Regions from separate parts of the Homo sapiens genome. Here region 1 is linked to region 2. The links come from fine-mapping of genetic effects on gene expression. Tissue or cell type: gastroesophageal junction. Region 2 holds a variant in brackets; the other region holds the start of a gene. All regions are shown on one strand. Distances are between the middles of the regions.

Evidence for each region. PIP is the estimated chance that this variant, and not a neighbour inherited with it, causes the effect.
Region 1: it holds the start of UNC13C, and the variant in region 2 is fine-mapped to the expression of UNC13C in gastroesophageal junction (GTEx, PIP 0.98).

What each region holds. Positions count from the first base shown.
Region 1 is chr15:53,977,072-53,979,838 of GRCh38, forward strand. It overlaps UNC13C (unc-13 homolog C), which reads left to right and starts at 1,370. Exons shown (of 33, transcript NM_001080534.3): 1 at 1,370-1,856. LOC124903495 (a long non-coding RNA gene) reads right to left here. Exons shown (of 2, transcript XR_007064646.1): 2 at 279-474.
Region 2 is chr15:54,276,877-54,279,643 of GRCh38, forward strand. All of the region lies in intron 10 of UNC13C (unc-13 homolog C), which reads left to right. Among named protein-coding and RNA genes, the nearest start is that of UNC13C, 300 kb to the left of the region's middle. The variant G/T (reference allele first, on the strand shown) is at 1,154.

The sequences.
Region 1 (2,767 bases), 300 kb before region 2:
CTGCCCTGGTACTTGCCCCTGATGCAGATCATTAGACCTTGAGCAGCTGCTCAGGTCCATTAACAGTCACTTAAGCAGCGGGTAAGGGAAGCTGTGCTGCTCTGAATTAAAGGTGGGGCTGATAGCTGGGAATGGGGAGGGCTCAGCTGCTAGTACCCAACATATATATTGTGTCACATTTGGGGACACTTTTTTAAACATCATGGAGAGGTTATTTATTGGTTGTCACATACGGTAGGTGAAATGTTTTGCCACAAGTTTTGCCACAAAATGCTATATCCGGTTTAACTGTTTATTTTGATGGCAACTATTATTATTGAATATTTAGGTGGAGTCAATTCTAATGTCAGTCAAGACATATTCATCCCTCCATGTACTGAAAAATGCCATACAAATCTGTATATATGCTTCCTATACTGTTTAACCACAGCTGCTAGTTGACGTTCTTCAGTCCTGGAAATATCCTTCCATTTTCTAAAAAGCAAAGAAAAGTAAAATTTTAAGTAAGCAGTAGAGCAGATGTAGCTTAAAACCTCCAAATTATTTCAGGCCTCAAGCTGCTTTAAGGCTGTATTTTAAGATTCAGTACTTTTTTATTTGTTTCAACAGGAGGATTAGAGGATTGAAAATGCTTTATTGATGGAAAGTGGGAACTGTTACTCCCCCCACCTCCTCTACTCAGCAAAACTAAAAGAGAAAGCAAGTCCATTCAATTCCCAGCCAGATCTTTAAAATGTTAACATCAAATGAAAAGACATTATTCCTAAGTGAGAAGAAAAACCTTTGCATCACTGTAAGTTACCCATCATTTCCCACTTTGATTTATGCATGTGTCATTAATTGAAATTGTTCAGGAATCACCTTCAAATGGTTTTCCACAAAAATAAGAGGAAAAACCAACTGGGATGGGATATCAGTATCTCCTCTATTTAAATACAGGGTCCTGTTAGCTGCATTTGGTGGCTAATAGGGAATGATACTGTGTGCGGTATACTTTCATAATTCCAAGTACAGTCAAGTACATCTAAAACAGTCATTGTTGAATAACATGGGTAATTTAGTATTATCCACGCTATTCCACTGGCAGAATTGGCCATGACTGTCTCCTAGGTCATCATCCAGCGATAAAGGGAAGATAGGCTGAGGAAGCTCTGGCATTCAGGCGTCTCCCAGCGATGAAGCTGTGTCCCACACAGTTAGTTGTCAGTGCGGTGGTGAAGGCCACACCTGGCAGTGGCTACAGTGCGTCTCCTGTGAGCAGGGGCTGTAGCTCACCCTCTCGGAGCTACGCCGTGCTACGGCGGCAGGAGAGGGAGCCCGGGCGCTCTCGGTGGAGGAGGCTGGGGATCGCAGTGCCGGTGCTGCATTCAGAAAAGACTCAGCCGCAGCCGGCGATGTGTGAAGTTCCCAGCACGCACTCAGCCCGGCTGCTCCTCACCCTCAAATGTTGATGAGCCTGGGCGCTCCTCAACACACGGGAGAGATCCCATTTTGCTTTCTGGGAGAAAGAGATGAGAAATGAGCCGCGGAAGGTATTTGGCAATGAGAAGAGTGAAAGGCAGTTTCTTGCCAGCAGCTAAGTTGTAGAATTGCTTCGGAGGCTACCCGGGAGTGCGATAGAATTGACAAGAAAAGAACAGACACCGTTGCAGACCAAGGCATGCCTGATTGCACGAGTCGGATCCCTGGGACGCAGCTTCCACTCCTGTTCTAACTATTTGTGATTGAAAAAAGGAAACGAGACTAGAAACACAATTGCAAGTGGTGTTCCTAAAAGGAAAACACATACACTCCAAAAGGAGGGGAAGAACAACCCAGTTGGCGTGCACATTTTTTTTTAAAGGAGAATTCCTCAGGTATGTTCTTTCCTCCGTTGCACGCACTGCTTCATCTGCATGCGATTTTCTGTCTGTATTTTCCTGTCCCTTCTTTTTGTTTGCACTTGGAAATCACAACCATGGGGTTCTCTTAGCGTAGCAGATATATTTGTAAAATCTCGGCTCTCCTGTTTTTATAATGTACATGATTCTATGGAGCATCATGACTTCTCAGTCATTGCTTTTAAAAAAAGAATTCAGAATGATAAATGACTGCTTAGTTTCCAGTCAACTTTCAGGAGAATATCTACATAGGGACAAATAGGGTTGAGATGAAAGGCTGGGATATTCCATAACCCCTCGGAATTTTGGAAGAAAAAAATAGAGCTCAACAGAGAACAAAAGTTGAGGGCTTCTAGGAAAGGGTTAAAAGCCAAGATGTCATACACTAGTGTGTCACCCAAGTGTTTTTCCAGCTCAGCATCCAGTCTGAAGCAAAAGAAGCTTTACCAATGATTTTTTTATTTCTAGCTCTTCATCAGTTCTTCAAGAAGAAGATCCTGCAGATTTACTTTCAAGAGATGAATTGCTTAAATTGTGTGCTTGGTTCTGTTTTACAACTGTTCTGTGGTGCTCAAGGAGGCAGTCTAAAAAAATCCCTTTGGTCCAACAGCATGAGTAAACCCTAACTTCTGCAATTACATCATCAATATACTTGTATCATCAAGAGTAAGACAGATATACAACAATAGTAATGTTGGCTGTCTTTAGTACCTAGACGGAGATGACAACACTTAAAAATCAATTTTCCTCGTTAGGCTTTTAAGGAAAAACAGGAAAGAGGTTTGAGGGTGGGTAATGCTTATAAAGATTAGTTTTAAAATACTCTGCATTTCTTTAAGAAGCTAAAATTGTAAGTTTATATAATTTTGAAATTAATAAAAAACTTA
Region 2 (2,767 bases):
TTAAGGACAACCTCCTAAAATAATTTTGGGTATAAAGTAAGCATAAAAATATGTTTAATAATTATTTTCAAAAGATAATTTCTATAATTGATTTTTTTACCAATGAAAGCATCTTCTATAAACTTTTACTGTTAATTTAAAAAATTTATTTGCACTATTGCTTCACTCTTATTTCTCCTTTGTTTTCAATGACATTTTCTTCCAAATAATTCCAAAGACATGCCTTTCTTTTCTGTGCACGATACTCAAACATTATGATATGAACTCAGATGTTGACATTTTTATCAGCATCTCCACAATGTTTTCCTGCCTGATGAAATGTTAAGAATGCCTTTAGTCTTCATTATATGTTTGTTATTTTCTTTCAGTTATGTTTCTACCCAGTAAACTTTGAAGCTGATTTTGACTAGAATTGGACTGGGAGGGACAATAAAATGGATAGCACTTCTTTTGACTTAGTTAAAGCACTAAAATAAGAAGTAGGAAGTAACCTCTTGAGCTTTTATTATGATTAGATCCATATCATCTTTTTTCACCCTGTCCTTACAGAACAATGTATAAGGTTAAGAAAGAACAAGATGGAAACCTACCACTAACTCTGGGGGAACATTTGGCATGACTTTTCACTGCAAGATGATGCCTAAGGCGCCCTCTGGCATTCATAGGTTTATTACTTTATAGAACTCTACTAATTGGCAGATAATTAAGTATATGTGCTGGGAAAATTTCATCAAAAAGGAGACATTAACTTTATCTTTTTAATATTGCTGCTACAAGGGCCATATTTAAAATGGTTTAAGACATGCTTTAATAAATATTTAATTTTAAGCAATTATTTGTTCCTTGCTTTGTTCCAAGGATGAATTAAAACAAATAATTCAGTTGTATTTTTCAATTGCATGTTCAATCACAAGGATTGAGATGAAACCAAATGATTTGAACCCAATCTATTTCATAATATGAGAGTAATGTTGTAGAAAAAAATGATACAGTTGGGGGAAATTAAGTAGCTGATAAATTGATGAACTGGCACTCCAGGCGATCTCAGATTTTGGAGGCTACTCTACAGTTAGAGTCCTTTAAGTACAAGTAGTAGCCGGTGCACAGTCAGAGAGAAACAATCCCCTTAGATAACTTTCTGTTTATGGAAAAG[G/T]GATCAGCGTGGCATGCAACTCAAAAATAACTCTTATGTCAATGCTCTCTACCGACCTAACTTTCCTTACCATCTTTGGCCACTCCATCCTGACCTGAGACCTCTGACTATTTTGCCTAGTTTTTGCTGTGCCTTTTTAAATATTGGCACCCAACTCTCTTTTCACCACTTTTTAGAAATCTTACCCTTTTTCTTTATCAGCCACTCCTTATGAGTATGGATCTTGTGATTTTAGAACTCCAAGAAAATTCTTAACAGCCAGAAGTTTCTTTACTGCTCCCTACTTTAGAGTCACATGTCAGGTTAATATTCTCATGTGAGCTTGAAAGCTTTAGATTTCTTTGAGTAGACAAAATTAATCCCCTATCTGGCGAGAGAGGAATTGGGAAGTTCCCTGAGGAATGGCTGAATTTCTGGAAAAGCATTCACTAATGTCTAAATGATCCTCTCTAGGATCAATGCTGTTCTCAAATGAATCAAATTTAGTATATCTTGATGATCCCAGGGCTTCCTCAACTTTGTCGTTAAGCTGTACAATGCCGTTCTTCTCTCCATCTCCCCGACACTGATCTCTTCAGTATCTTTAATAATCAGACTAGGTTTTGTGAATGCACTAGTTATTTTTTTTAAATGTAATATCTTTCTTATACTTGCAAAGCACATACTGGATTTTCAGTTAGGACACATCCTTCTTCATCATGCAGAACTGGTCATTACACAATCGAGCCATGTGAAATTCTTGACATTTGACCCTTTTGACCTATAAAAATGGAAATATTATATGGTTCAACCTAAAGTAATCGCTTTCATCAGAATGATTTCTATGTGAACCATCAGTCTTACCTCTTTATCACCTAGAGCACAGTATTTGTTATACTTTTTAAAATATAAGCTATGCTTATGTTTGATCAAATTGGGTTGTTTTATGTTTTATTACACAAACTTTTGGAAATATTAAATACATTCAAACAGGTGTCTGGTAAATTTTTCATTCAGATGTTCATAAACATATTTATTCAACTTTAGTTCTTATGGCACTTAAGTTTGCATTTTAATGATAAAGGGCAATACTGCAGACAGATGAGTACCAGTGCCAAAATATGACAGGTGTTGCCAAGTGTTTTGTGGTATTTGTGCAGTGACTTGGCATTTTCAAAAATTCCATCTCTTTGCATTTTTCACATCTAGCAAAAGAGCCCAGAGAGGACTGAGGAATAACCAACATTACTATTTGTGAATTCTTAAGAACATTTGCTCCGTTTGAGATAATTGGTTGAAGCTTAGACTTAAGTGGAAAAGTTAATTGGAATGTGAGATTTCCTAACATTTCTCCAGCAGTTCCTTGGTGATTAGTACAATCTTCTTTGTATAAGCCTGTACTGTGCTGTTGTATTGCTCATGTTTGGGATGAGAGGGATGTTAGTTGACAGTGTTTACTTTTGTGATTGCCTCTCCCGATTCAAGTTTGGTGTTCAGATAAAGTCTGTTTGGGAAGCTGATGGAACCACAACTTGTTACTGGCATTTCCATCATTGCCTCAAAGTTTCTTGAAAGATGGCAGCTCTTCTTTTCTAGCAAGGAAGGTGGGGGAATAGCTAAGAGAAAGGATGCCAG